Linked DNA regions of Homo sapiens. The protein of the gene in region 1 purifies or fractionates together with the protein of each later gene. This does not show direct contact. Each region holds a gene or a part of one and is shown in the gene's direction. Other genes may lie near its edges.

The links.
Region 2: the proteins of HNF1A (region 1) and PCBD2 purify together in Homo sapiens (affinity purification with mass spectrometry; 4 studies listed by BioGRID and IntAct, with this or other methods). This does not show direct contact.

What each region holds. Positions count from the first base shown.
Region 1 is NC_000012.12:120,972,534-120,983,138, forward strand, and holds the start of HNF1A (hepatocyte nuclear factor 1-alpha), read left to right. Parts: upstream 1-6,009; 5' UTR 6,010-6,235; coding exon 6,236-6,561; intron 6,562-10,605. UniProt on the Homo sapiens protein: Transcriptional activator that regulates the tissue specific expression of multiple genes, especially in pancreatic islet cells and in liver. Binds to the inverted palindrome 5'-GTTAATNATTAAC-3'.
Region 2 is NC_000005.10:134,899,507-134,909,249, forward strand, and holds the start of PCBD2 (pterin-4-alpha-carbinolamine dehydratase 2), read left to right. Parts: upstream 1-5,624; 5' UTR 5,625-5,633; coding exon 5,634-5,717; intron 5,718-9,743. Other genes in the region: TXNDC15 (thioredoxin domain-containing protein 15 isoform 1 precursor), read left to right, coding at 1-179.

The sequences.
Region 1 (10,605 bases):
TCTGGAACTCCTGACCTCAGGTGATCCACCTGCCTCGGTCTCCCAAAGCGCTGGGATTACAGGTATGAGCTACCATGTCCGGCTGTTCCTTTTTTTTTTTTTCTTTTTCTTTTTTTTTTGAGACGGAGTTTCTCTCTGTCACCCAGGCTGGAGTGCAGTGTCATGATCTCAGCTCACTGCAACCTCTGCCTTCTGGGTTCAAGTGATTCTCCTGCCTCAGCCTTCCGACTAGCTGGGATTATAGGTGCCCACTGACAAGCCTGGCTAATTTTTGTATTTTTAGTAGAGACGGGTTTTCACCATGTTGGCCAGGCTGGTCTCGAACTCCTGACCTCAAGTGATCCACCCACTTCGGTCTCCCAAAGTGCTGGGATGACAGGCATGAGCCACTGCGCCCAGCCACTGTTCGCTTTTTTTCTCAGTGGTTCTCTAGTCCATTGCCTTAACCACTCACCATGACTACAGCTCTTATTTGCAGTGACTCTCAAGAATGCAAATGCAAATGCCATTCCTGACCTCGAGTTAATTCAGCTTTGTCCCCTGAGCATGGGGGAAAGGCAGGCTGGGGGCTGGAACTTTCTGCTTGTGTACCTATCTCTTTAGACTCTGGAGGCTCCTCCCCAATCTCTGTCATTCCCTCTCCAACCAAATCCACCTGCCGTCCCAGACTCAAATGCTCAGCCACCTAACTGCCTGAGGACCCAGCAGTTAATGAGTTTACATGCTGGGGGCAGGAGTCAGGGCCAACACTCCTTGGTTCCTCTGGCTCCCTGGAAAGGGAAAGTCACCAAGAGGCAGCTGCAGGCAGCAAAGAGAATAAGCAGGAGAACCTCAAAGCCACAAAGGGACAGCACACAGCATCTTCCCTGTTTAGCCTGGACTTGAGAATGCTGTCCCCAGCAGTAAGCTGCTCAACCTCAAAGCAACTTGCACGGGGGTTTACAAAAAAATGCACTTGGCCGGGCACGGTGGCTCACGCCTATAATCCCAACAGTTTGGGAGGCCGAGGTGGGTGGATCTTTTGAGGCCAGGAGTTTGAGACCAGCCTGGCAAACATGGTGAAACCCTGTCTCTACCAAAAATACAAAAATTAGCCAGGCATGGTGGTGTGTGCCTGTAGTCCCAGCTACTCAGGAGGCTAAGGTAGGAGGATTGCTCGAACCCAGGAGGCAGAGGTTACAGTGAGCTGAGATCGCACCACTGTACTCCAGCCTGGGTGACAAAGTGAGGCTCTGTCTCAAAAATAAAAATAAAACATAAATGCACTGGAGGAAAGAGGGTACCACTCTCCTTAAGGCGGGGGCTGCCAACTTGTCCTGCACAGCCCGTCCGCCTGCCTCAGGTGGACTTAAAGCCCAGCTCTGAGGGACTCTGAGCAGTCATTTAACCTCTCTGAGCCTCTCTTTCCTCCCCTGCAGAAGGGGGATTATAACAGTTCCTAATTCATGAGTTGTTCTTGGAGTGAAATACATTACTGGCCAGGTGAGATGGCTCATGCCTGTAATCCCAACACTTTGGGAGGCTGAGGTGAGAGGATTGCTTGAGCCCAGGAGTTCGAGACCAGCCTGGGCAACAAAGCAAGACCCCCATCTCTAAGAAAAGTAAATAAATAGGCAGGGTGCAGTGGCTCACCCCTGTAATCCCAGCACCTTGGGAGGACGAGGTGGGCAGATGGCTTGGGCTCAGGAGTTTGAGACCAGCCTGGGCAATGTGGCAAACTCTTGTCTCTACTAAAAAATACAAAAATTAGCGAGGCATGGTGGCACACGCTTGTAGTCCCAGCTATTGGAGAGGCTGAGGTGGGAGGATCACGGGAGCCCCAGAAGCATAGGTTGCAGTTTGCCAAGATTGTGCCACTGCACTCCAGCTCGGGCGACAGAAGGAGACCCTGTCTCAAAAAACAAACAAAAAAGATAAATATATAAATGAAGCTGGGCATGATGGTGCGTACCTGTAGTTCCAGCTACTTGGGATGCTGAGGTGGGAGGATTGCTTGAAGCCAGGAGTTCTAGGCTGAAGTGAGCTATGATCATGCCAGCCTGGGTGACAGAGTAAGAATCTGGCTCTTAAAAAAATAAAAAGTAAAATGGAACAGGTGAAGTTATTTTCTTTAATTTTTAAAATAAAAAGTTATTTTTATAAATAAAATTTTAATTTAAACCAAATTATTTTAAACTAAATATAACATTATATTTGTATAATATATAAATAATATTTTAATTAAATCTAATTTAAAATTATTCTAAATGTTAACTTTTTTTTTTTTTTTTTTTTTTTGAGAGGGAGTCTCGCTCTGTCGCCCAGGCTGGAGTACAGTGGCGCGATCTCGGCTCACTGCAAGCTCCGCATCCTGGGTTCACGCCATTCTCCTGCCTCAGCCTCCTAAGTAGCTGGGACTACAGGCGCCCGCCACCACGCCAGGCTAATTTCTTGTATTTTTAGTAGAGACGGGGTTTCACCATGTTAGGCAGGATGGTCTCAATCTCCTGACCTTGTGATCCGCCCACCTCGGCCTCCCAAAGTGCTGAGATTACAGGCGTGAGCCACCGCGCCCGGCCTAAATGTTAACTTTTAAATTGTCTTTTTTTTTTTTTTTTTTTTTTTTGAGACAGTGTCTTGCTGTATCACCCAGGCCAGAGTGCAGTGGCATGATCTTGGTTCACTGCCACCTCCGCCTCCCAGGTTCAAGTGATTTTCCTGCCTCAGCCTCCTGAGGTTAATTTTTGTATTTTTATTACAGATGGGGTTTCACCATATTGGTCAGGGTGGTCTCGAACTCCTGACCTCAGGTGATCTACCCACCTTGGCCTCCCAAAAGTGCTGGGATTACAGGCGTTAGCCACCACGCCCGGCCAAAATTTTCTTAATTTAAAAATTTAACTCAATATATTTTTTAAAAATTATCATTTCAAGAAGTGACATTAGCCATCTTTCAAGTGCTTGGTAGCCACATGTGGCTGGTGGGTGAGGGCAGGGCCTGTTTTTTTTTTTTTTTTTTTTTTTGAGACAGAGTTTTGCTCTTGTTGCCCAAACTGGAGTGCAATGGCGTGATCTCGGCTCACTGCAACCTCCGCCTCCTGGGTTCAAGTGATTCTCCTGTCTCAGCCTCCTGCGTGCATCACCATGCCCAGCTTTTTAAATTTTTAGTAGAAATGGGGTTTCATCATGTTAGCCAGGCTGGTCTCAAATTCCTGACCTCAGGTGATCCACCCACCTCGGCCTCCCAAAGTACTGGGATTACAGGCATGAGCCACTGTGCCTGGCCACAGGGCCTGTATTTAGATGTTTGCTATTTTGTTCAGCACAGATTATTTTACATTAGTTAAAAAATATTTTTTGAGGCCGGGCATGGTGGCTCACACCTGTAATCCCAGCACTTTGTGGGGCTGAGATGGGAGGATCTCTTGAGTCCAGGAGTTTGAGACCAGCCTGGGCAACATGGTGAAACTCCGTCTCTACCAAAAATACAAAAAAAAAAAAAAAAAAAATTAGCTGGGTGCAGTGGTGCACACCTGTAGTCCCAGCTACTCGGGAGGCTGAGGTAGAAGGATGATTTGAGCCCAGGAGGCGGAGGTTGCAGTGAGCCCAGATCATGCCATTGCACTCTAGCTTGGGCAACAGAGCCAAACCCTGTCTCAAAAAATAAAAATAAATAAAAATGAAAAAAAAAATCAGAATTGCACACATGAAATGGGTGAATTGTATGGTAAGTATATCTCAATAAAGCTACAACAATATTTTTATTGATTTACATACCATCAAACTCGCCCTTTTAAAATGTGCAATTCATTGGGTTTTAATAAAGTCACAGAGTTGTCCGATATCACCACAATCAATTGTAGAACATTTTTATCATCCTAAAGAAACCCAGCACCATGGAGTGGCCACTCCCCATTCCCTTCTCCCACCCAGGCCCTGACAACCACAAATCCACTTCCTGTCTCTATGGATTTGCCTGTTCTGGACATTTCAGATAAATGGACTCACACACTATGTAGTCTTTAGTGACCACTTTTTCACTTAGCATCATGTTTTCAAGGCTCATGCATGTTGTGGCATGTACTGGAACTCCATTCCTTTATATGACCAAATAATATACCATTGCATTGGCTGGATGCGGTGGCTCATGCCTGTAATCCCAGCACTTTGGGGGGCCAAGGCGAGGGCATCACCTAAGGTCAGGAGTTCGAGACTAGTCTGGCCAACATGGTAAAACCCCATCTCTACCAAAAATACAAAAATTAGCTGGGCGTGGTGGTACATACCTGTAGTTCCAGATACTCGGGAGGCTCAGGCAGGAGAATTGCTTGAACCCGGGAGGCGGAGGTTGCAGTGAGCCAAGATTGCACCACTGCACTCCAGCCTGGGCAACAGAGCGAGACCCCCATCTCAAAAAAAAAAAAAAAGAAAGAAAAAAATATATATGTCTATACCATTGCATGGTCAAGCCATATTTTGTTTATATATTCATCAGGTGATGAATATTTATGTTTTTTCCACTTTTTGGCTCTTGTGAATAATGCTGCTATGAGCATTCACGCACAAGTTTTTGTATAGACATCTGTTTTTAATTCTTTGGGGTTTTGCATTCATTTTAATTTTAAAAACATATTGCATAAAAATGTTATTTACCTTGATGACTGGGTTTTTTGGCATTCCCTTAAAATTTGCACCTGGGCTGCCAGGCATGGTGGCGCACGCCTGTAATCCTAACACTTTGGGAGGCTGAGGTGGGCGGATGGCTTGAGTCCAGGAGTTTGAGACCAACCTGGGCAGCATGGCAAGACCCTGTCTCCACAAAAAATACACACACAAGGCCGGGCACAGTGGCTCACACCTGTAATCCCAGCACTTTGGGAGGCCGAGGCGGACGAATCACTTGAGGTCAAGAGTTCAAGACCAGCCTGGCCAACATGGTGAAACCCCAACTCAATAAAGAATACAAAAAAATTAGCCGGGTGTAGTGGTATGTGCCTGTAATCCCAGCTACTCCGGAGGCTGAGGCAGGGGAATCGCTTGAACCTGGGAGGCGGAGGTTGCAGTGAGCCAAGATTGCTCCACTGCACTCCAAGCCTGGGTGACAGAGTGAGACTCTGTCTCAAAAACACACACACACACAACCCAAACACACACAACACACACACACAAAATCAGCTGGGTGTCGTGGTGCGTGCCTGTAGTGCCAGCTACTTGGGTACTTGGGTGGCTGAGGCGGGAGGATCACCTGAACCCAGGAAGTCAAGGCTGCAGTAAGCCATGATCGCGCCACAGCACTCCAGCCTGGGTGACAAAGTGAGAACATAGCTCAAAAAATAAAAAAATAAATTTGCACCTGAGGCAAGTGTCACACTCATCCCAACTCAGTCTCACCTTGCATGTTTTCTGCCTTGCTGGCTGTATGACCCTGGACAAGTTACTTAACCGCTCAGAGCCTCGATTTCCTCCTCTATAAAATGGGGATAATCTCTGTAACTGCTCACAGTTGGTAGCAGAATGCAATGAAGTGAATTCGCCCTCACAGAGCCAGCACTGTTCTTGGCACATGGTAATCTTAACATATTTTTTCCTACAGGGAGGCCTGGTGTCAGGCCGGGAGTGGGGTGGAAGGGTCCCAAAATGGATGGAAGGGCCCCAAAATGGCCGTGAGCATCCTCTGCCCTTGAGAAGAGCTAGCCCAGCTGTCTAGAGCTCCCTGCTGCTGCCGCTCTCGTAAGCAGCAAGCATTTTTGGCTCTCCTGTCTCAGCATGATGCCCCTACAAGGTTCTTTCGGGGGTGGGACCCAACGCTGCTCTCCTGATGGCCTCCCTGGCTCCCAGCACCTTCCATCCCAGCTGCTCAGGGCCCCTCACCTGCGCCTCCCCCACCCTCCCCTCTGCCCACTCCCATCGCAGGCCATAGCTCCCTGTCCCTCTCCGCTGCCATGAGGCCTGCACTTTGCAGGGCTGAAGTCCAAAGTTCAGTCCCTTCGCTAAGCACACGGATAAATATGAACCTTGGAGAATTTCCCCAGCTCCAATGTAAACAGAACAGGCAGGGGCCCTGATTCACGGGCCGCTGGGGCCAGGGTTGGGGGTTGGGGGTGCCCACAGGGCTTGGCTAGTGGGGTTTTGGGGGGGCAGTGGGTGCAAGGAGTTTGGTTTGTGTCTGCCGGCCGGCAGGCAAACGCAACCCACGCGGTGGGGGAGGCGGCTAGCGTGGTGGACCCGGGCCGCGTGGCCCTGTGGCAGCCGAGCCATGGTTTCTAAACTGAGCCAGCTGCAGACGGAGCTCCTGGCGGCCCTGCTCGAGTCAGGGCTGAGCAAAGAGGCACTGATCCAGGCACTGGGTGAGCCGGGGCCCTACCTCCTGGCTGGAGAAGGCCCCCTGGACAAGGGGGAGTCCTGCGGCGGCGGTCGAGGGGAGCTGGCTGAGCTGCCCAATGGGCTGGGGGAGACTCGGGGCTCCGAGGACGAGACGGACGACGATGGGGAAGACTTCACGCCACCCATCCTCAAAGAGCTGGAGAACCTCAGCCCTGAGGAGGCGGCCCACCAGAAAGCCGTGGTGGAGACCCTTCTGCAGTAAGGAGCCCTGCCCCGTCCCCGCTCCCAGGAGAGCCTAGAGGGGCCCCCCTCAGCTCCTAACGAGCCCCCCTTCTGAGTTGAGTCCCCATGACCTTCAGCCTTTAGCCTAGTTGCTGGGAAGGGGGACAGGGCCCATGAGAGCCCAGGGGTCCTTGCTTGGAGGTTTGAGCCTCCAGCCCCTGAACTGCTCCTCTGCAGAGTCCCAAATCCCATGAGCCCAGGCCTTTAGCCCAGTCCTTGGGCAAGGGGGACATTTCCCAGGGGGGTCCAAGATGGGAGAAAAAGCAGGTGAGTTCACAACTCAAATGCCTGGAGAACTGGGAGGTGGTGGAAATTTTTAGCCACTCTGATCATTTATACTCTCCAGACCCTAACTCCTGCACTGAGTCCTCAGTGGGTAGGCTCCGGGGCCCAGGAAGCACTGCCAGGGAGGAGGGCCCGAAGCTGGGGTTTGGGGGCTTTCCTGGCCTCCTAGGGACTCATGCGTTTAGCCAGGGAAGCCCAGGTCTTTCTTACCTGAGGCAGACAGAGCCTCGAGGTGGGAGCTGCTCCCCTTTCCTGTATGGCCACAGGCACCCCACCTCACCAGCAGGCGCCATTAGAGGCTGCCCGTTCTACATCCCCATCCGCTGGCGGACTCCCCGTCTCCTGGAGAACTGGGTGGGTCCTGAGCTCGATGCCTCCCCTCTCCTCAGCAGAGCTGACCTAGTTACTAATTACCCATGTGCTTTATTATTTCTCTTTTGTTTTATAAATTTATAAATGGCAAAAGGCTCTGATAAGGTCTGTGATCATTAACTTGTAGGAATGGTGGCCTGGAAAGATCTGGGCCAACCCACCTCCCACCTAGTGGGGGTGGGGGATGGGGGTGTGGGGGAGAAGGAAGGATGGCCTGGGGGCTACAGGGGCCACCCCTCCCCAGCGGCTCCCTGACCTCCACCCTACAGCGCCTGCTTGAGGAGGTTCACTACTTCCTGGGCGCTGTGCTGAGGTTTCACAGGAATAATTTCCCTTCATGGTGAGGAGTCCTGGGCAGAAGCTATTGGTGACTCTGCTTCACAAATGGGGAAACTGGGGCTTAGAGCCGGGAAGGAGCTAGACTAAGTTCACCAAACTGAGGCCCCAAACCTACTCTGTTCGGTGCTCTCAATTGCTATGACCGGGGACCAGAGGCCTGCAGGGGGTGGCCAGGGAGTCAGAGAGAGACCGAGCCCCAAAGATGCTCCAAAGGGGCCCATCTCTTTTCTGTCCAAGGTCCTGATCCCAGCTGGGGTGGGGGAGGGCTGGTGGATTCCTGCTTTCCCAGAGGCCTCAGGGAGCCTCCCGAGGGCCTGGACAGGGGGCAGGGGAGCAGTCAGGGCCCCCTGACTTGGCAGGAAGAGGAGGGCAAAGGACTCCAGAGCTGCAGGGGAGGGGCAAAGAGTCAGGCATCCCAGACCCAGGGCGAAGGCAACCTGACGGGGTGGGGCTGGGCCTGACCTGCCCAGGGCCCCAGATGGGACTGGGGGCTTTGGGGTGAGGGTGGGGGCAGGGGATGCTTTCTTACCTGGCTGAGTGAGCTCTCTCGGTCAGCAGCCCCCTTTGGTGGGATGGTGGGGTTGGGGAGGCTTGATCCACAGCATTTGAAGGGGAAGCAGAGGTCAAAGTGCTTCCTAGGGACCAGCAGAGACCTGGAAGCTGAGGCAGAGAGTGTAGAGAGAGGCCATTGGGGGAGATGGACAGAGAAGCTGGGAGAAGCAGAACGGAGGAGCCAGGGGGGCGGGGGCTCAGACCCAGCTGGGAGAAGGGGCACGGGAGAGAATGAGGCGCCCCAAGCTTGCAAGGAGGCTGGAGTGCTTCCCGCCTGCCCCGATTGGGTTTTCTTTAATGCTAACAGCATGCTATTTACTTTCCATTTAAATTTGAGATGTTGCTATAAATTATCAACCAGCTCCTTGTTCCTGCAGAGTTTATAACTAACTACCTGGGTTACTTATTGTTCAGGTAACAAAAGGGATCGGAAAACGCCCTGAGTGAAAAAAGTGGGGCCTCCAGCGTCAGGGTCAGGAAAGGAGCCAGGGAGAGAGGGGCGGGGGACCCCTATTGAAGGCCTGGGCCATTGGGGAGGTTGAGGCTGGGAAGACGGTACAGAGGCAGAATGTCTAGTAGAAGCTGTTTCCCGGGAGAAGTCAGTGTCTGGGAAGAAGCCGGGGTGGGTCCTGGGTCCCAGGCCTCCCTGGGGTGCCCCATGTTGGTGGCCACAGCAGGAACCTGAGCTCTTTCTTCAGATCTCCCCCTTAGCTCCCTGAGTGACCTTGGGAAAGTCTGTTCCTCTCCTTCTGCCTCAGTTTCCCTCCCTGGCCAAGGAATAAAGTCCAAACTCCCTGCCTTGGTTTCGTTCCCCTCCCTCCACCCCACCAAATTCCTGGATCTCTTCCCAGGTCTTTCTCTTCCTCTCGGCCTTTGCTGCAGTCATTTTGGCTTTGCTGTTCCTCAGTACCCCAAGCCAATTCCCACCCCAGGGCCTTTGCACGTGCTCTTCCTGCTGCTCAGAACCTCTTTCCAGATCTTCCCATGGCCGATTCCTTCTCCTTCAGCTCCCTGATTGCTCCATCCAAAAGGGGGCCCCACCCCCGTCACTCTCTTCCACTACTGTTGTTCACTTTCTCTGGTTCCCTGTCAAGACTTGTGATCATCTGATTTGTTTGTTTTCTATCTCCTGCCATGAAAATAGAAGCTCTTCAAGGACAAGGCCCGTGTTGCCTTATTTACCACTTGTACCCACATCCTGCCCAGTGGCTGATGCACAGCAGGAATGAGTGAGTGACTGGGATTGTCTGAGGCCCTGAAGATATCTGCTGCCCTGTTGGTCAGGGCCCAGCAGCCTGAGACGTGGCCAAGGGAGAAACTGGGACCCAGAGTTCCTTCCTGGGTGTCCTCCCGGGTCCTTTCTGTCCCTGATCAGCTCAAACCCCAGCGTGTTTCTTTTTTGTTGTTGTTGTTGTTATTTTTGAGACGGAGTCTCACTCTGTCGGCCCGGCTGGAGTGCATGGCGCGATCTCGGCTCACTGCAAGCTCTGCCTCCTGGGTTCACGCCATTCTCCTGCCTCAGCCTCCCGAGTAGCTGGGATTACAGGCATGCACCACCACGCCTGGCTGATTTTTTGTATTTTAGTAGAGATGGGGTTTCACTATGTTGGCCAGGCTGGTCTCAAACTCCTGACCTCAGGTGATCCGCCCGCCTCGGCCTCCCAAAGTGCTGGGATTACAGGCACTCAGAGCCACTGCCCTCAGCCTTCAAACCCCAATCTTGAAGTATTCTGATCCTGCCCATCAGGCAGCATCAGGGCACTGAGACTCAGGAAAACAGTAGCCACGGCAGGAGGGGGGGGGGACAGAGGATCTGACGTCCCCAACAAAAGCCAGACTGCCTGCATCCTAATCCTAGCTCTGCCCCTTTCTAGCTTGAGCAGGTGATTTTATACTTCTGAGCCTCAGTTTCGTCTGCAGGGTAGAGATGACAATAGCCCTTGTCCACAGGGTTAAATGGCATGGCACTTGTAGAGTAAACATGTAGTAACTGCAATATACAGCAGTTATTATTAGTGATCCCATTTTACAGATGAGCAAATTAAGGCTGAGAGAGGCAGTGCCTTACCGAACGAAACTCTTCCAAATGACTGAAGGCAAGCCAGGACTTGGACCTGGGTCCTCCTACCTCACGCTCCATACAGCAACCTCGAGGTCACACTTTCCCCTCCCCAGTCATTCCTGCTGTTTAAGTTGACCATCAACTCACTTCCATACAGTGCTTTGGAGTTCACAAAGGGCTTACAAAATGCGCTAAGCTCATTTTTTCCTCCTCCCCATCTCTGAAGTCTGAAATATCATTAGCCCCATTTCACAGATGCGGAAACTGAGGCACACGGAGGTTAAGCAAAGAATCAAGGCCAGGTCTAAAGCCCCCACACTGAGAAGTCAGCTCCCCTCCAGATGTGGAGATGAATACCACAACCTTGCATGCCCTGAAACCCCAGGGGCCAGAGGGCAAGAGGCTCAAAG
Region 2 (9,743 bases), on another chromosome or scaffold:
ATGTGGTGGTAACTCAAGCCGACCAAATAGGCCCTCTTCCCAGCACTTTGATAAAAAGTGTGGACTGGTTGCTTGTATTTTCCTTATTCTTTTTAATTAGTTTTATTATGTATGCTACCATTCGAACTGAGAGTATTCGGTGGCTAATTCCAGGACAAGAGCAGGAACATGTGGAGTAGTGATGGTCTGAAAGAAGTTGGAAAGAGGAACTTCAATCCTTCGTTTCAGAAATTAGTGCTACAGTTTCATACATTTTCTCCAGTGACGTGTTGACTTGAAACTTCAGGCAGATTAAAAGAATCATTTGTTGAACAACTGAATGTATAAAAAAATTATAAACTGGTGTTTTAACTAGTATTGCAATAAGCAAATGCAAAAATATTCAATAGATGCACTATTCTTGTTTTTACTGCATGAACGTAATCCAGTATTTGGAAAGTAATCCAGTTTGAAATGTGAAGATGTATTCCGGCAGAATAGTGAGTAGAATGACATGCTTACTATACAGAAGGCAAAAATAGGACTCTCAGGTAATAGTTTAAGGAAACCCTTGATTCCTTATATATGTTTAAGAAGGTTAGTTTTCTGTTTCTTTGCAGTTTTTCTTCTAGAGTCCATAGCAGGAAAGTATGTAACCAGAATTGGTTAGTGTGACCCCCTCAAGTAGCAAGTGATGGAAAATAAGAGTCAAATACCTTGATGTTTGTGATCTCTAACTCAAAAAATTTGAAGTGTTTTAAGTTGTTTCTGGGTAAGGGAGATGTTAGGAGAAAGGAAATGCTGTAACTAAAGCTCAATTATTATCAGTTCTATGCTAACGTATACATTTTAATCATAGTTACCTAAGCAGCATGCATTAATTGAACCTTAAAATGTTCCCAGCAGGCTGGGCGCAGTGGCTCATGCCTGTAATCCCAGCACTTTGGGAGGCCAAGGCGGGAGGATCACTTGAGGTTAGGACTTTTGAGACCAGCCTGGCCAACTTGGTGAAACCCTCTCTCTACTAAAAATACAAAAAATTAGCTGGGCGTGGTGGCGGGCACCTGTAATCCCAGCTACTTGGGAAAGCTGAGGCATGAGAATCACTTGAACCCGGGAGGCAGAGGTTGCAGTGAGCTGAGATCATGCCACTGCACTCCAGCCTGTGCAACCAGAGCGAAACTCCATCTCAAAAACAAACAAAAAGAAGTATTGAAGTGTAAAACACTGTTCTTGCCCACAAGTTGATTCTAGTCTAGTTCAAGACACATGTTTAGTAAAGAGACAACATGTAATTTAAACAAACTTTTTTTTTTTTTTTAGACAAAGTCTCACTCTGTCACCTAGGCTGGAGTGCAATGGTGCAATCTTGGCTCACTGCAACCTCTGCTTCCCGGGTTCAAGCGATTCTCCAGCCTCAGCCTCCTGAGTAGCTGGGACTATGGGCCTGTGCCATCACACCCAGCTAATTTTTCTATTTTTAGTAGAGATGGGGTTTTGCCATGTTGGCCAGGCTGGTCTCAAACTGCTGACTTCAGGTGATCCACCCGCCTCAGCCTCCCAAAGTGTTGGGATTACAGGTGTGAGCCACTGCGCCTGGCCTAAACAAACTTTTTGAAAAGCTGTTTCTAAAAGATTCCTTAAATTCAGATATGACAGCTAATTACCTCATCATAAATTACTTTTATACTAATTGTTTCCAGGGTTTTAGAGTAGTTGAATGTTTATTTCACAAGGCACCCTAAATTCTATAGAAATAAAACCTCAGATGAGTCTCCTTCTTAGAGTGTTACAATGAATGGGAGTTTACAACTTTTATGTGTCATGTTTCCAACAGCTGTGTTTGGGGTGGTCACTGGCAGGAGGGGACCGTATCTCAGAATGGCACATTATTTCTATTTTACACATGAGCAAATTGAGGCATAGAGAGTTAGATAACTTGCCCAGGTTACACAGATTGTAAGTTGATGAAGCTGGGATTTGAATCTTCACATGTGTGTACTTATAAATACAAATGTAAGGAAAACTCTAGTGAGTCCACCTCTTATATTGAGTTATTACTGTGTGAGTGCCAAGTACTGTTTTAGATGCTTTACATATACTATTTTGTTTAATATCCTTTTTAAAGAATAAACTAGGTTGGTGCAGTAGCTCACGCCTGTAATCCCAGGACTTTGGGAAGCTGAGGCAGGTGGATTGCTTGAGTCTCAGGAGTTCGAGACCAGGCTGGTTAACATGGCGAAACCCTGTCTTTACTAAAAGTACAAAAAATTAGCTGGGTGTGGTGGTGCGTCCTGGTAGTCCCAGCTACTCGGGGTGCTGAGGTGGGAGAATCACCTGAGCCCAGGAGGTCGAGGCTGCAGTGAGCTCTGTAATCATGCCACTGCGCTCCAGCTTAGGCAATCAGAGTGAGACCCTGTCTCAAAGCAAAAGAAAAAACCTGAGGCTCTCAATAACTTGCTTTCCTTCATGCAGCTTCCAGTGGCTGGAACCAGGCTTTAAATTTACTCCAAAACCTTTATGTGGGATGGCACCCTGCCCTGCCTTTGCACCATGGCCCAGCTACATGGGGTTCCCCTGGAGGGAAATGTGGAGCAGAGCCATTCCCTGGAGAGGAGGTTCAAGTATAGAGAGGATCAGCCTCAAAACACTGGTGCTGCCAGGTGCGGGGGCTCATGGCTGGAATCCTAGCACTTTGGGAGGCTGTAGTGGGAGGACTGCTTCAGTGAGTCGTGATTGTGTCACTGCACTGCAGCCGGGGTGACAGAGCGAGATCATGTCTCAAACCCCCAAAATCAGAAAAACAAAACAAAAACACCAGTAGTGTTGAGGGAAAGTGAAAAGGGGAAGGAAGTGATCAAAGACCAGCTGAACAGCCCAAGCTAAGCATGGTTCCACTACAGAGCATGTGGCCAGTAAATCTTTGCTAAGGGACTTAAATCCTATTAATTGGGGAGCTACATGTGTGGGCAGACAATTCACAGCCCCTGTGATGTGATCCACTGATGTCATCATTTCCCTGGGCCCTAGCATCTGCCGTTCGCTGCTTTTTTGACTAGATCTGCATGATCAAATTTATTTTATTTTTTTGAGGTGGAGTTTCACTCTTGTCACCCAGGCTGGAGTGCAAGTGCAGTGGCCCGATCTTGACCTCTGCCTCCCAGGTTCAAGAGATTCTCCTGCCTCAGTTTCCTCAGTAGCTGGGACTACAGGCATGCGCCACCATGCGCGACTAATTTTTGTACTTTTTTGTAGCAACAGGGTTTCACCATGTTGCCCAGCCTAGTTTCAAACTTCTGGGCTCAAGTGATCTATCCGCCTCAGCCTCCCAAAGTGCTGGGATCACAGGCGTGAGCCACTTTGCCTGGCCAGTGACTATATCCCAGATGCCAGTTTCATACAGTGGTATTAAGGAAGGAAAATGATTAAATTTACTGAAAATAATGAAGGTTCACTTGTTTACTCACATCCACTGGTTCATTTTTTAGTTCTTACTTTAATGAGCGAATCTGAGTAGTAGTTTTCATGATCATAAACAGTCAATGTAAATGTTGGAAATATAACTTTTAATTCTTTAGGACCAGCAACATTTGATAAGGGCCCCCAGTGTGATTCCTCCCGAGTTTTGCTTTTGAAATGGTTACATCTTTTTTTTTTTTGACAGAGTCTTGCTCTGTTGCCAGGCTGGAGTGCAGTGGTGCAATCTCAGCTCACTGCACCCTCCGCCTCCCGGGTTCAAGCTATTCTCCTGCCTCAGTTTCCTCAGTAGCTGGGATTACAGGCACGCACCACCATGCCCAGCTGATTTTTGTATTTTTAGTAGAGACGGGGTTTCACCATTTTGGCCAGGCTGGTCTCGAACTCCTGGCCTCAATTGATCCACCCGCCTCACCCTCCCAAAGTGCTGGGACTACAGGTATGAGCCGCTGCACCCGGCGAAATGGTTACATTTTGTCAAGTGGGCAAATGGGAAGAACAGAAGCCCGTGAATTTTGGGCTACTTTGAGGCAAAATGCTTTATTTTTTCTAGGTCCATATGGATGGACTGCTAATAACTGCTAAGTTGAAGTTAAATGGACTCTTGTTCTTAAAAAAAATATTTTGCCATATCCTCTGCAAAACTGCTTATTAATTTGCATAAACTTTTTTTTTTATTTTTGAGGGGGGTGAGGGAAAGGGTATTTTGCTGTCGATGGAATGCAGTGGCGTGATTTCAGCTCACTGCAGCCTCCCGGGCTCAAGCCATCCTCCCATCTCAGCCTCACGGATAGCTGGAACTACCAGCACGTGCCACCACGCGTGGCTAATTTTTGTATTTTTAATAGAGATGGGGTTTTGCCATGTTGCCCAGGCAGATCTCGAACATCTGGCCTCAAGTGATCCTCCTGCCTTGTCCTCCCAAAGTGCTGTGATTACAGGTGCGGGCCACCATGCCTGGCCTGCTTAAACTATTCAGTTAAAAACAAACAAAAAAGAGGCCGGGCGCGGTGGCTCACGCCTGTAATCCCAGCACTTTAGGAGGCCGAGGCGGGCGGATCACGAGGTCAGGAGATTGAGGCCATCCTGGCTAACACTGTGAAACCCCGTCTCTACTAAACATACAAAAACAAAATTAGCCGGGCGTGGTGGCGGGTGACTGTAGTCCCAGCTACTCGGGAGACTAAGGCAGGAGAATGGCGTGAACCCGGGAGGCGGAGCTTGCAGTGAGCCGAGATCGCGCCACTGCACTCCAGCCTGGGCGACAGAGCGAGACTCCGTCTCAAAAAAAAAAAAAAAAAAAAAAGATACAAGTGAGTATTCTTAATAGTATGTCAATTACATCTCAAAAAAGTCAAAAAAAAAAAAAAAAAAAGAATGAAAGAATACCTCCCCAAAAATGATACAAGAAAAGATTCACCTAAATCTGTTCACAGCTGTCTGCAGAGCTCCTACTGTGTGCTGAGCCTGGGGGTAAACAGGGCACGGACACGTTTGGGAGGGGATTACAGGCCGGGTTTCCACACTTTTTGGTCCAGGCAAACCCAGACGAGCCAGCTGGCTCAAGAACTTGGCAGCTGCGTGATGACTGAACAGAGGCTGCGTTCGAACCCACTACTGCAAGACTTAGGAGCCCCCGATGGGAACTGCCGTGGTTCACTGCCCCAGCCCCGCCGCTCAACTGCCCCGCCCTGGCCTACGACATCCTCCTGCCCGCATGGACTGCGCGCAGCGCCGCCAAGCGGGGAGCCCAGCTCGGTGCTAGCGCCCGCGAAGCGGAGGAGGCCGGCGCCCGAGGCTGGGCGAAGTTCCTCCTAGCGCAGCGAGGACCGGAGGGCAAGGCCAGCGCGCGCCGGGCGACCTGCGTCCCGGGCACAGACGCGACGGGCCCGCACGGGGCGGGGACCGCGCGCGCCTGCTGGGCCTACGGCTGTGGGGCGCGCAGAGTCCACCTGGCGGCCAAGGGCGCTGGCGACCGCTGAAGCTCCTGGGGGTGTTCGGGGTCCGGGCTGCGCCTGTGCCCGCGGGAAGGCTGGGCGCTTCCCACACACAGACCCCGCTCCGGGCCAGCCCCGCAGGGAGACTACCAGGGCTGGCGGTAGCTGGGCGTGGTCGGGTCGGGGGCGGCTGTGGGCGGCCGGCAGGCAGCGCGCGGGGCAGCCCTCGGCAGACGGCCAATGGCGGCGGTGCTCGGGGCGCTCGGGGCGACGCGGCGCTTGTTGGCGGCGCTGCGAGGCCAGAGCCTAGGGCTAGCGGCCATGGTGAGTGCACAGCGGCCGCGTGGGTGGGGGTCCGGGGTCGGGGGGCGGTGCGAGGCCCGGCGGCGTCGGCTGAGGGACCAGCGGGACTGGGGCGAACCCGGCGTGGGCCGAGCCTTGGAGCTCGGGCGTCGGGTCACCGCGTCCCGGGACTGACCACCTGTCCGGTGCGCCGCTCAGAGACCGGGGTGGCCGCAGCCTCCGCCACTTGCCCTTGACTTTACACTTCCGCCGAAGCCTACGAACTTGCCAACCGGAAACAAATGGGAACGAATTTTGTTCAGCAACTACAAAAGGCAGATGTGAAAAGTAGTTGCAGAACAATTCGGTGCCCGCTGCCGCTCGTTGTGCTGAGGACGAACGGCGCTGCGGGCCTGGCTCCCTATGGCGGCTCCCTGCTCGCGCTTCACTCCAAGGGGAACCCACAGAGGTTTTGGAGGAGTTATTAATAAATTGTCTTTTTTGGTGACATATTGACTTTTCTTTCCTTTTCCAAGGGGCCGTCAGTTTTCCTGCTGTAGAAATTAATATTTTGGAGTAAATGGAGGGAAAGTTTTAACATGCAGCACCACCTAGTGGAAAAGTGGTGCGTTAAACTCACCATCTCATTTTAAGTTGCATTTTAACCGCCCATTTCAGTTTGAAATGTTTTGTTTTGTTTTGTTTTTTCGACACGGAGTCTCGCTGTATCGCCGAGCCCGGAGTGGAGTGGCGCGATCTCGGCTCACTGCAACCTCCATCTCCTGGGTTCACGCTATTCTCCTGCCTCACCCTCCCGAGTAGCTGCGATTACAGGCGCGTGCCATTTCGCCCAGGTAATTTTTTATATTTTTAGTAGAGAGGGGTTTTCGCCATGTTGGCCAGGCTAGTCTCGAACTCCTGACCTCAGGTGATCTACCTGCCTCGGCCTCCCAAAGTGCTGGGATTACAGGCGCGAGCCACTGCGCCTGGCCTGAAATTCTTTAATAGAAGAATTTTTTTTTTTTTTTTTTTTTTTTTTTGAGAAGGAGAATCACGCCGTCACCCAGGCTGGAGTGCAGTGGCGCGATCTCGGCGTATTGCAAGCTCCGCCTCCCGGGTTCACGCCATTTTCCTGCCTCAGCCTCCCGAGTAGCTGGGACAACAGGCGCCCGTCGCCACGCCCGGCTAATTTTTTTGTATTTTTAGTAGAGGCGGGGTTTCACCGTGTTAGCCAGGATGGTCTCGATCTCCTGACCTCGTCATCCACCCTCCTCGGCCTCCCAAAGTGCTGTAATAGAAGAAATTTAAAATAGCTCGAAGACGGAGGAAGATAGGCACTCCGCCGCTTCTTGTCCACGAAGGGGAGAACACAAGTTGAGTGCCTACTGTCACCTAGGCGTGTCTTCAGGCGTACTCTGCCCCAGGTGCTAGTGATCCAGTAAGATTAGGGTGTTCTGGGAAGGAATGAGTCAACAGACATGATTTGAGCGCTGCCCCATGCCAGGCTCAATGCTAGGTACCCTCACATTCAAGATCTGTAATCTAAGCCTTTCAAAAAATCTTGGCAGGTAGATATTATAATATCCCCACTACAGACAGAAGGATCCCGGAATTCAGAAAAGCGGAGTTTAGTATCCCACAGCTAAAAGTAACAAAGTTAGGCCTTAGATCTAGTTTACTCTCTTCAAATCCTAGCCTACCCCCCATCCCCTGAAAAAATTAAGCCCACCACCAAGGGTTCTGCTGTGAATGTGCCCTCATGGGGGCCTTTGATGTTATGTAGATGAAGTGGCTCCATTTCCCAGTCCTGGGTGTGGTCCCTGCTGCTGGGCAGGTGTCTGTTGTGGGCATAAAGTGCATACCACTGATCTTAGCGGGGATGTGGATGGTCCAGCACTCAGAGAAAACAGCTCAGTGTGTTCTACAGACTCCAGGTTCCTGCCTTATTACAGGCAGCATGTTTAATGGTTTTCTTTGCAGCTACTCAGTGTGGACACACATAATTCTGTTTCTTTTCCAAAATTCTCTGAGTTGACAAAATAAGTGTTTAATAAGAATTTCAGAATTCTTTCTTTTTTTTTGAGACGGAGTCTCGCTCTGTTGCCCAGACTGGAGTGCAGTGGTGCGGTCTTGGCGCACTGCAACTTTGCCTCCTGGGTTCAAGCGATTCTCCTGCCTCAGCCTCCTGAGTAGCTGAGACTATAGGCGCGTGCCACCACGCTTGGCTAATTTTTGTATTTTTAGTAGAGACGGGTTTCACCATCTTGGCCAGGCTGGCCTCGAACTCCTGACCTTGTGATCTGCTCGCCTCGGCCTCCCAAAGTGCTGGGATTACAGGCATGAGCCACCACGCCTGGCCAAGAATTTTAGATTTCTTATGATAGATGTATGTGTAAGTTTTTCAGAACTGTCACTGGAAAACTGATGAATGAATCTCTTTTGATTTTTTTTTTTTAATTGAGTCGGAGTTTCACTCTGTTGCCCAGGCTGGAGTGCAGTGGCACGATCTCGGCTCACTGCAACCTCTATCATCCGGGTTCAAATGATTCTCCTTCCTCAGCCTCCTGAGTAGCAGGGACTACAGGCGCCTGCCACCACGCCCAGCTAATTTTTTGTATTTTTAGTAGAGATGGGGTTTCACCATCTTGGCCAGGCTGGTCTTGAACTCCTGCCCTCGTGATCCACCCACCTCGGCCTCCCAAAGTGCTGGGATTACAGGTGTGAGCCACCACGCCCGGACTTTTTTTTTTTTTTTTAAGAGACAGGGTCTCACTCTGTTGCCCAGGCTGGAATGCAGTGGTGATCATAGCTCACTGCAGCCTCAGTCATCTGGTCTCAAGTGATCCTCCCACCTCAGCCTCCCAAGTAGCTGAGACTATGGACATGGTCCACCACACCCGGCTATTTTTTAAAATTTTTTTGTAGAGACGAGGTCTCATTGCGTTGCCCAGGCTAGTCTTCAACTCCTGGCCTAAAATGATCCTCCCACCTCAGCTTCCCAAAGTGCCAGGATTACAGATGTGAGCCACTGTGCCCAGCCCTAGTAAATGTTTTTTTTTTTTTTTTTGAGACAGAGTTTCACTCTGTTGCCCAGGCTGGATGGCTGGGATTACAGGCGTGTGCCACCATGCCCAACTAATCTAGTAAGTGGTTTTTAACAACAAGCTTTTGCATATTTTTGTTTAATTAAAAAGTATTCTCTGCTGGGCACAGTGGCTCACGCCTGTAATCCCAGCACTTTGGGAGGCTAAGGTGGGCGGATCCCTCGAGGTCAGGAGTTTGCAACTAGCCTAGCCAACATGTGAAACCCTGTCTCTACTAAAAATACAAAATGTTAGCTGGGCGTGGTGGCATGCACCTGTAATCACAGCTACTCAGGAGGCTGAGGCAGAAGAGTCGCTTGAACCTGGGAGGCAGAGGTTGCAGTGAGCTGAGATCACACCACTGCACTCCAGCCTGGGTGACAGAGCAAGACTTGGTCTCAAAAAAAAAAAAAAAAAAGGTACTCTCATTCTTTCCTTTTGTTAGTTGTGGGGAAGAATAGCCGACCTAGCAAAGAAGAAAAACTAGAAAACTGATTTATTAGTATTTTTTTCTTCATAGAAAAAGTTGTCTAAAGGTAAAATCTTTTTCCTCTCTTAATATTAGTGATAAATGATTTTGGGATTTCTGAAGTGGGAGTGAGTTGCAGCTTAATGGCAGAGAATCCAGGGAATGCAGCTTAGCCCACAGTTGCCCTTTGATGAGGAGCCTTCACTAATGTTCATCTTTCTGGGTGACAGCCTCTCTCTCACCTGAGCCTACAGTAACTCTGCAAGTAGGTAAGGCAAGAAGTATTGCCTGGAATGAGAACCCTGCTTTCCTGACTTCTAGTCAAGTGTCCATATCTTCTCTCTGGCCCTGATGTTTAAAGTTATTTCAGTTAAAAAACCAATAGCATGGGAAGTGTGGGCCTGTTAACCAACAGAACCTGGCTTTGTGAATGTCATCCCCAGGATGCGTAGAAACAGGCCAGACAGTGCACACAAGTGCTTTGGACTGGGCAGTACTCTGGCCAAACTATGGAGA